3 linked regions of the Homo sapiens genome follow. The protein of the gene in region 3 purifies or fractionates together with the protein of the main gene of each other region. This does not show direct contact. Each region holds a gene or a part of one and is shown on either strand. Other genes may lie near its edges.

Region 1 (3,654 bases), on a different chromosome or scaffold from region 3:
CAGAATTATATGAGGAATATCAAATGGTCAGGAGATAAGAAACATCTTCATATATTTAGTTTTCCCTTTCTCTTTAGGTGTAGCTAGGGTGAAGACTAATTTTGTGTATATAGCTGAGGCTTATAGAGTGTCAATTTACAATGTTTCTTTAGTTAAATGTTTATTTATTAAAGACTCTGTTTCACCATACAAGTCCTCATTTGCTGTTGTATGTAGACACCTGTTAAATCCTGCTTGGAAGTTTTTACTGTGTAGTTTGCTATAAATCAGTCAGGCAGGCGAAGTAGAAGATTGGCAAAGCTTTTAACATAGACTGAGCCATTGGAAACAAGGCCTGAGCCACCAAAGCTAGAACAGGATGCACTCCCCACTGCTGCCTTGTGTGGTATGCCTTTAAAGTTTGGGTTCCAAATTAGCTGTTTTGGTTTCTGTCACAGGACAACCAATTGAAAACAGCTCAACCTTTCAGGATAGAGGATGGAGCTAACCTGTAGAGAACTAAATGATGGTTGTTATGCAAAGGTAGGATTTTTAACATCACATATGAATAGTCTTCGGAATATTTCCTGTTGTTTTCATCCAGATTTGTCATTACTGCTAGTTTTTGAGGTTAGGAAAAGAGAGCTGTCACCTTCATGGGGCTTAAAAAAATACAATGTGGAGATTTTCAGTCAGTTTTCAGTCAGAGGAAGGAATACCGGCTGTCCGTCTAGTTTGAATTCTTCATGATGGTATCCTTAGCCATGATCCATTGCTCTTGTTTTGATTATTTGTATTTTAAAGAGCAGATTGATGCAATGGGCTAGTGAGGGCATTCTACCCTATTTTGAGAGTTTGAGAGCTTCACTTTTTTAAACTAAGAATGATAGTGAGTTTAAAAAATATTAGTTGTATTTCAAAATTAACCTTAGGTGTGCTTGAAATTTTCTTATGTACTTCAGTAACAACATACTGGGATTGCAAATATTGTACTTTTGTATACTGTAAAGGGGGAGTTGAAAATACATTAAATAGTAAAAAAAAAAAAAAAAAGACTTGGAATCTAGAAATCCTAGTTTGTATAATGGATTGTAAGAACTTCAGAAGGATGAAGGAGTTGGGCCCTATGCTCTGTAAATATGTTGATTTTTTGCTATTTATTGATAGCTTATTATGTGCGGAATTTTACATAGTCTGGATCTTCATAGACTTCCTCCTTGAATCTCCTGTGTGCACTTGAACGTTTGTATTGCCTGATTTTACAGATGATGACATTGAAGTGCAGTGAGGTCTAGTAGTCTTTCCAAGGCCCTAAGTTTCACGTATGTCCCAGCAGATAAAGTTGCAAATTGATGTAACTGTCAGCCTGGGGGACATGGGAACCCACCAGGGCCCTTGAAGAAGGAGACCTTGGCCTTTGTACCTCCTATCAATGCTACCCCTCTCCAGCTTTCAGCCTAGAGTTTAAGAGCAAACAGGACATCTTATTCTGAATAAATGGTACTACTAATACAAAGTTATTTGAAAATATGTGTTCTTTCCAGAACAGGCATTTCTTCATTAGCAATTGATTTAGAGACTCTGATGGTAAGAATAAATGCATTTGTTTTTACCTAGTTTGTGAGAAAATATGCAGAGATGACTTGGGGGACCACATTTTCCAGATAGCCCTTTCTAGCAGAGTTTGTGAGGTCATGGAGAAAACTACTGTCACCTACGTGTCTCTGGCTTTATTAGTCAGTTAAAGCAAATATAGTTGCATTTACAGAAATACCCCCAAAATGAGTGACCCACTCAGAATGCTCTGCCACCTAGTGTTTACTGGGTGCCTGCTCTGTAGGATGCAACTGCGTGTCATTTCATTTAATCCTTATGAAGCACTATGGGGAGGTAATATGTTCCCGTAATACAACAGAAGACACTGAGGTTCAGGGTGGTAGACTCACTTGTCCAAGGTTATCAAGCTGCCAAGTGGCAGCACCAGAATGACCCCAGTTGATTTTTCTGAAGAGCCAGAGATCTTAACTCCAGTGGAATGAACCAGGGAGGGCCATGGTAGAGAAAAGTCGTGCTGGACCTTGAAGAATTGGAAGGAATATTTTAATTAGAGAGGCCGGGGTCTGGGGAAGAGAGAAGACAGAGAGGGAAGGGTGTCCTGGGGGTACTGATGGCTTAAAGAAGGGCACAGTGGAGGTGTAAAGTTCATGTAAGAGGCAGAGCCTGGCCTTCTCTGACTAGGGCACTGGATTTGGATAAGATGTGGTTCTCACCCTGGGCTCTGAGGCCCCCTACACCCACAGAGGTGGCCTGAGAGGCAGCCTCCCAGGAAAGGAAGACACTGTGAGAGTGAGACTCTCTCCCTGCATGCACCAGCAAAGGGGCTCAGCTTATGATACTTTAGAGTTTCAGGAAAAGCTTTAGTACAGTAGATTCTGTGCTTGAAAAAGGAGTTGCAGCTCACTAGGGCAGCAGAATGTCAGAAATAAACCCGAAAAGTTATTGATGTGCCTAATGGAATTTTGACTTCTGTCTGTAATGCAGACCAGGGGACATCTCTGACTAGTTTTTAGAGAGACACACAAAATAAAACCAGATTTTTCTTTCACCACCTAAAAGATTACACTAGCTGCAGTCTTTTAGGAGAGTAAGAGTTTGCAGGCAAGGTAAGCAAATAGGCATCTGTAGATTGGAACCTTTACACACTGCTAGCAGGAGGATTAATTGGTATCTCTATTATTTTAGTCAGGCTTCTCCAGAGAAAGAGAACCAATGTGTATATACATGGAGATTTATTATAAGAAATTGGCTCACATGATGTATTAGTCTATTCTCACACTGCTGTGAAGAAATACTTAAGACTGGGTAATTTATAAGGGAAAGAGGTTTAATTGACTCACAGTTCAGTATGGCTGGGGAGGCCTCAGGAAACGTACAATCATGGTGAAAAGGGGAGCAAACATGTCCTTCTTCACATGGCAGCAGGAAGGAGAAGTGCAGAGTGAGGTGGGGGAAAAGCCCCTTATAAAACCATCAGATTTTGTGAGAATTCACTCACTGTCACCAGAACAGCATGAAGGTGACTGGCCCCATGATTCAGCTACCTCCCACCGGGTCCTTCCCACAATACATGGGGATTATGGGAACTACAAGATGAGATTTGGGTGGGGAAACAGCCAAATTATATCATTTTGCCCCTGGCCCCTCTGAAATCTCATGCCCTCACATTTCAAAATACAACCATACCCTCCCAACAGTCCCCCAAAGTCTTAACTCTTTCCAGCATTAACTGAAAGTCCACAGCCCAAAGTCTCATCTGAGACAAGGCAAGTACCTTCCGCCTATGAGCCTGTAAAATCAAAAGCAAGTTAGTTACTTCCTAGATAAAAGAGGGGTACAGGCATTGGATAAATACACCAATTCTAAATGAGAGAAATTGGCCAAAACAAAGGGGCTACTAGCTCCATGCAAGTCTGAAATCCTGTAGGGCAGTCATTAAAACTTCAAGTTCCAAAAATGATCTCCTTTGACTCCATGTCCCACATCCTGGGCATGCTGATGCAAGAGGTGGGCACCCATGGTCTTGGGCAGCTCCACCCCTCTGGCTATGCAGGGTACAGCCTCCCCTCTTGGCTGCTTTCACAGGCTGGTGTTGAGTGTCTGTGGCTTCTCCAGTTG
Region 2 (3,654 bases), on a different chromosome or scaffold from region 3:
AAACACTACAGGTCAAAAAAATTATAGCTAGGGCATTAGTGTCCAAAATTTGGCCTTTGGAAAAGTAGCCAAGCAACCATGGTGCTGGTGAGTGAAGAAATAGTACCTTTGGCTATCAAGACAGGTTTAGCTCTGGATCCCATTCCCTAGAAACACCTCTAAAATTATAGGAGATCATGTTGCAATTATTTATTTTTATTAAGTGGTGGCATGACAAATGGAAGTTCTGGCTCTGAATTTTGTCATGTGAAATAGAGTCTAATTATCCAAAAATACAAAACACTGTCTTACCTAGAAAGTAGATTTTAATACTCAGATAGTTTTTGAAAAAATTTTGGTATTAGAAGTGGTGTCTGTGTGTGTACCTGCATGTGTCTCAAACTCCTGAGTTCAAGGGATCCTCCCATCTCAGCCTTCCAAGTAGCTGGGACTACAGGCTAGTGTCACTGTGCCTAGCTGAAGGAATGCAATATCTCTATCTAGAGAGAGAAATACACATAAATTGCTGAGAAAATATCCTAGAGAAATTTTGGTCACAGGCAGGAATATTAAATCTATTGAATTTAAATGAAAAGACCAAGAAAAACCTTCAACAAACTTTTAACTTCATCTTTAATAATCTCTTACTTAATATATTTCAAAGCTATCTAAAGAAATGGTAATGCACAGTAACTGTCAATACAAATTTATCCAAAAGTTCTATTTGAAATAAAAGGGAATATAAATTTCATAAAGTTATTTTCTTTTGCTCTCTCTCTCTCTCTCTCTCTCTCTCACACACACACACACACACACACACACACACAACTGCCTGCATTTAAACATGATACCAGCATAGGCAAAACCGAAATGATGTAAATAATTGATAGAAACAGGAATGGGGCCATGGTCTCTATCATAAAACAATGGTAATACACACAGATGTGCACACACGTAAAATATGTTAGGCATCACAAATAGAATGTTAGTATTTTGGAATCAAATTTCCACTTGCCTACTTTTTCAATAAGGAACTGGGAATCCAAAATTTTATTCAATCACCATAAGCAAAACACCATAGAAATAAACTTTTGTCTTTCTGTGATCATTGAGAAAGAAAGATGAGTGCAAGAGCACAGAGGTGAAAGTGAAAACAACACCTTATGCTCATAAACAGGAAGAAGTGAGCGGATGCTGCTACTGTTGTTATCACTGCTCTTACCATCAGTGGGATTTTTCTTTGACCTTTGTCTTATTTATCTGTAGTTTGCACACGGGGCCTCTCATCAGTGGGTTGGGATTTTGGCTGCAGTGGCAGCTGTTGCCATTCAATGAGCACTTACTACATTCTGAGCATGTGCTAAGTGCTTTACATGAACAAGCCCAATGAGATAAGTATTATCCATATCCCCATTTTACCGATGAGGACACTGAAAGTAAAATAAGTTTACAACTTGCTCAAACTCATAGAAGTAAAAAGTGGCAAGCCCAGAGTTTACTCATGGGCATTCTCACTCCAGCTTCTTAACTATTATGGCTGGTATTTTGTTATCGGAGCCTTAGTTTTCCTTAACGTCTCAACAACATTAAAGCCAATTATTTTAAAAATGCTTTATAATCAATAGAGGTATTATTCCCATGAGTTCAGCAGAATATAAATAACCTCAAGGTTGCCTGTCAGTGGGAAAAAAAAGGAGAAAATAAAAGAAAACTAAATGTAAAATTGTCTAGGAAAATAAAGCAACTGTACAGATGACAAATACGCTACCTACAAATACCATTTTGAATATTTTTTCAAAATGGCTAAAAGTATAAACTTACACAATCTGTAGCATTAACTTCGACGCCAGCATCAAGTAGCATTCGTACAAGAGCCTCATTCTGCTTTGTCTTTGATACCTATTACAAATGGTAATTATAAGAAAGGCTTATTTACAAATAGTTTCTCCAATTTATGCCTGAGACTATTTAATCAATAGGCTTCATTTTAATCCCAACACTCCTATGCATGCATGCACCCTTCCTAAAATTTCCCCCAGCTTCTCACTCACTCTAATATCAATTAATTAAAGCCAGGTTCTCAGACTGTGGTCCTGAAGTAGCGGCACTGACACCTAAGAACCTTAGAAATGTACTTCTCAGGTCCCACCCCAAACCTACCTAATTCCACTGAGGATGGGGCCTAGTACCTGTCTTTCCCTTCCTGGCTCAAAGCTGTGCAATTACTTCCCATTGCTCTGAGGACAAAAGTAAACTCTTCAGCATGACCTACAAAGCCCCGTATGTTTTGGCTCCACGTATGGCCCTGCCCTGGCCTCTCTCTCACTCTGCGCCTCCTGGCTCACTCTGTTCTACTTACATTGGCCTTTGTTAATCTTTCATTCTCAGAGAATCATTGCACAGGAAGTTCCTTCTGCCTAGAAGCCTCCTCCCTCTCTTCTTTGCCTGGCATATTCACCTTTCATTCATCAGCCCAAGTCCCTCTTTCTCTAAGAAGCTTTCCCTGACCCACCTGACCAGGTGAAATCCCTCTTTTTTAGCTATCCTAACACCAGTCGCCTTTCTGTATCACCCGCTTTATGGTAATTTTACATGTGTTTGTGCCATTTGATTAATGACTCTCCCCACCACCCTCTAACTCTCATGGGGTAAAAAACTATGCCTATTTTGTTCATCATTGTGTCCCTAACAGCTAGCACAGCGTCTGGCACATAGTAGGTCCATAATAAACATACGTTAAAGAATTGAACAAATTAATGAAATGAACTAGGACTCCTCAGAAATTCACTTTTCCTTCCCAGTCTCCTGAGCTTCTGACCACAAGCCTGTTGGAGTCTTCCCCAACTTCCAGTCTCCTGAAGAGGCAAAGCTCTCCCTGCTCAGCTGGGTATAGCCCTGGAGTTCAACCCTGTCATCACCTGGGAAGCTCCATCCAGTTCTCTCTCCTTAGGCTTCCCTCTTGTGTCACCTCCTAAACTGCCTTTCTCTGCCTACTTTTCTCTGAAATAACCCAATGCTTTCCTCTCTCCTCCCCTATCATTTCCTCTCATGTCACTTATTTGTTAATTCATCACAAATTTACAACTTTAGGCCCCATTAATAAATTGCACGTGCATGAAACTAGAGTTGAGCTATTCATTACGATTACTATTTTTGCCCAGTCCTCCAGCCTCTAAACATTGAACCATCTTAGAAAGCAGAGTTGTGTGTCAATAAATTCTGAATGAGCCTTCTAATCACAGTTGTAATTTTTACCTTTAGAATCTCTAAAAATGTTTGTAAATAAATAACAGATTCTCCCTGCCCCCAAAATACATGTATTTAAATGCTATGTGCTAAATACATAATGAATTTTTAAAGAATTCTTCGAGGATATGAGCAGATTATATTTTTATTAGTGAATTAAAGTTCTTTTCTCTCTCCTATAAATCCAAATATAAAAATCAACATTGTCATGTTTAATTATAGTTCCTCAAATTCTGTGGCATTTAAATACCCAATGAAATAATAACATTTTTGACGGGCAGACTTGTTCTGCGGCTGATGTTAACAGGTGTAACCAATATTCACAGTTTATGAGCTACAACAAGGAGGGAGCTTGGTCATTTAATTAAAGTAAATTATGCATCTCTTGAGTCATGTCTGAGAAGTGGAACTGGGCACAAAGGAAACTAG
Region 3 (3,654 bases):
ATCCTTGGCAGCCACCCAATGCGCCTGGAGGAACCTCAGGTCCAGCATTATGTAATGATACCTGCTGCTTCATCTGGGTGCCCCCCCAACCACAGCTCCTCCTTTGAGACATTCCCATCCTATTGAAATGCCACCTTCTTCTCAAAGCCTTCCTAGGCTTCAATATACACTGCAGCCACCCACCACAGGGGACTTTCCTGTTTTGCTCATTCCTGCCACCAACTGAAGAGTTACAGAAATAGCTCTGTTGTCTAAGGCAGCGCCACACTGCTCACCTCATATTTATTAGGTGCGATGAAGTTTAAGGTCTCATCAGGGTCATACAGGATGGAGAAGGCCAATTCCAACACCTCCTGAAGGAGAAAGGGTTTAAATTAGAGCGATGGAACAGCCTGGGGTCTGCACATCAAGATCTTGGCCAAAGTCCTAGTGACTCGGCATCATCACCAAACATGCTGATTCAGATGAATGTCATCAATGCTCCTAGGCGGCCACAAGTGTGGCTGGAGATGAGGCCCAGCATAAATCAACCTTAACTTACCCACTCCCTGCCCAAGTCACATCAAAGATGTTGTGATATTTTTAAGATTGGAAAAAAGTCATTTTCAACACTCAGAACCCTGGAAGGTCACGATCCATGACTGTAAGTTATCCTAAAAGTTTTTATATTACCAAGATGACTAACAACTTCTATCGTGCTGTATTTGGCATAGGAATGTCTTAACAATTAAAAAACAAAACAAAACACACACACACACAAAATTGGTCACTGTTGCATGATACCAAGGAACTAACTCATTATTTTGAAAGTAAGTACATAAAAGAAGAATCAGCATTTATTCTCGTTTCCTATATAAACTGTACCACTGGGAAACCAATAGTAGATAAGGGCAAGTTTCATGGTTCAGCTCATAAATGAAAAGCAATGACTGCATCAAAATATCATGAGTTTGCAAACCTTAGTTGACTGATGGAATGAGGCACTGAGCTTCAACAGTCTGCTAATTATCACAAAAGGAGAGACCACCAGACGTTATGTGCCTCTTGATAGAACATAATACCACTGATGACACTGGCCAGGAAAAAAGTTAAACCTGAACTGGATCAAACCTCTAGATCCCTCTTCCAATGTACAGATCTGGGACAGAGGAACAAGTTAAACTGTACCACGGGGAAACAATCAGCAAAATTCAGATGCTAGGAAACTACCAAACAAGCAATCTGGTTCTTCAGCTAATAAACTGCAAAGGAAAAGATGGTGGGGGATGGGGGGGCGGGGGAACTTATGAATTAAGAAACTTAAAAGACCAGTCTTAGACTCTGGTTTAGACAAGATGGGTATGGGGGTGTGTGTGTGTGTGTGTGTGTGTGTGTGTGTGTGTGTGTGTGTATCCATATAAACATTTATATATCTGTAGAGAAATTATGACATTTATAAGACAATTGGTAGAAAGTCACCATCAGTGGAATATTTGATCTGAAATAACTACTTTCATTTCCTGTTATGTGTGCTAATGGACTGGTGGCAATGTTATACACTATACGATGTACACTAAATATTTACAGATGAAACAGTGTGATACTTGGGACTTTCTTCAAAGCGATAAAGGAGAGAAACAAGTGGATGGGCAGAACTGGCCATGGTTGCTGAGTCTGGGTGATGTGTATACAGAGGTTCCATCTATTTTTGTGTATGTTCAAAATTCTTAATAAAACATTCAGGAATAGAGAGGGGAAGATGCCAAGAATGCACCTGGAAAAAACCACCACCAATGGCACTCTCCAAGTATCACTGGGCCAGCTACTCAAACTGGCCTCTCTACTCACCTTGTTCTGTTTCAGAGCACTTTTCTCTTTCATGTGGGGACAATCTTTCCCAGTGACAATGGCCTTAATGTCTGCAACAGGAACTGATAAATGATGGGAATTAGTCTCTGGAAGTTCATGCTGCAAGCTGGTCAGTGCCTACATCAGTGCTGGAAGGGAGGTACTGGGGCAGATGCATAGGAAGCCTCAGCCCCAAACTCCAAGGGCTGCTGTATGAGCTCAGTGAGGGTGGTGGGGAGGATGGCCTTGTACTGTTCCCTCCGTCTTGGTCACTCCTGTAGACCACAGCCCAGTGAGGCTGTGTCAAAGCTAACTGAGGGTCACTTCAGGGCTCTTGGATTTATATCCCCAAGGAACGGGACCTTGGTGACTCCCTTCCCCTCTCCTTCACAATAATGGCGATGATGATGCCATCATCGCCAACAGCAGTGGCAGCTGCTAACAGTTATGCTGACTACCTGCCAACCACTCTTCTAAGTGCTTTGCATACATTACTCATGCAATCCTCTTAGGAGGAAAGTGTGGCTATTATTCCCACTTTACAGGAGAAGAAACCAAGGCAGAGGGGAGAACTTGCAATTAATTAGAATTCAAGTTAATTAGGAGCAAAGCCAGGATTTGAATGTGGGCAGTCTGGCTTCACAGCTTCTCCTCTTAACTACTGCCTTTCGACTTAGTCATGTACCACCCTTTACAGTCTACACAATACATTCACACCTGTGAACTCATTGTTTCTCCAAACCACCCCACCGAGTAGGCCAGGTAGAGGAAATCGCTGACAGATAAGGAAACAGGTCCAGAGAGGTAACAGGTACAAGCCCAGATGATCAGCTACAAACAGCTGGACTAGAACTCCTGTCTCCTGACAAGTCCAGCAACCATGACACATCAACAGAGAAATGAACCTACTTTTCTCCTGCAGGGATTCAAATGTCACCTCCCCTTGTGGGTTGTCATCCAAGTCACCATAGTGAAGGACCTTGTGGTTCAGTGCCAACCGGCAGTACCAGAACCGTTCTGGAACACAAGGGAAGCCAAACAGGTGAGCAACGACAGTACTGGGAAAGGCCTGGGCACAAAAGGGGCCATCCAGGCAGGCTCTTCCCGGCACCAAGGATTGCCCCGTCTCCTCTCACCTTGCCTTCGGCGGTTCCCAATCTTTCGGAAGCTGCTGCCCTCACAGAGCCGGTTCAGGCGCTGCTGCTTGATCAGCTCAAGGATCTCGGGCTGGATCTTCTCCCTCAGCTCCCTGGGGTGGACACACACTGGAGTGAGCGGAAGGTCATGGGGACAGTGGAGCTCTGGAAGGAAAGCAGAGCTGGCAGCCACCTCCCCCGCCAGCCTCCCCTGAGATGGAACTTACACAATTGGCGGGGACTGGAAGTCATCCTGACTCATCCTCTCAGACTGGCGCAGTCGTAGAATCTCAGAGTAACTCAGGCTACGCAATTTGCTCTTGAACTGATCCAAAGAGTTGGGTTTGGAGGGCAAAGCTCGAGTGATTTGCTCTCGGACGACTTGCATAACCTAAGAGGAGAAGAACCCAGCCAACTCACACCACTACTCTTGAGAAATGGACAGGCCTATTATGGAGCACCAAGGCTCTTTCCTGCCCCAGGGTCTTGAGCAGGGCAGGCACTACAGACATCTGCTGGGTGAGTAAGGTATACCTTCTTAGATGGTTATTCAGGTCACATGACTGACACTGATAGATGCTTTATTTCCCATATATTTCAATTGGTCAATGGTGTGGGGGAAATGAGCATGGATTTTTGTAGTCAGAAAGAAATGGGTTCACATCTTGACTCTGTCCCTTCAGCAAGTCAC

Evidence for each region.
Region 1: the proteins of ELMO2 (region 3) and CD226 purify together in Homo sapiens (co-immunoprecipitation; one large-scale study listed by IntAct). This does not show direct contact.
Region 2: the proteins of ELMO2 (region 3) and ANKRD22 purify together in Homo sapiens (co-immunoprecipitation; one large-scale study listed by IntAct). This does not show direct contact.

Annotation. Positions count from the first base shown.
Region 1 is NC_000018.10:69,941,352-69,945,005, reverse strand, and holds part of CD226 (CD226 antigen isoform a precursor), read left to right. Parts: intron 1-3,654.
Region 2 is NC_000010.11:88,824,238-88,827,891, forward strand, and holds part of ANKRD22 (ankyrin repeat domain-containing protein 22), read right to left. Parts: intron 1,879-3,654; coding exon 1,801-1,878; intron 1-1,800.
Region 3 is NC_000020.11:46,368,616-46,372,269, forward strand, and holds part of ELMO2 (engulfment and cell motility protein 2), read right to left. Parts: intron 3,355-3,654; coding exon 3,191-3,354; intron 3,077-3,190; coding exon 2,964-3,076; intron 2,845-2,963; coding exon 2,737-2,844; intron 1,911-2,736; coding exon 1,828-1,910; intron 354-1,827; coding exon 276-353; intron 1-275. UniProt on the Homo sapiens protein: Involved in cytoskeletal rearrangements required for phagocytosis of apoptotic cells and cell motility. Acts in association with DOCK1 and CRK. Was initially proposed to be required in complex with DOCK1 to activate Rac Rho small GTPases.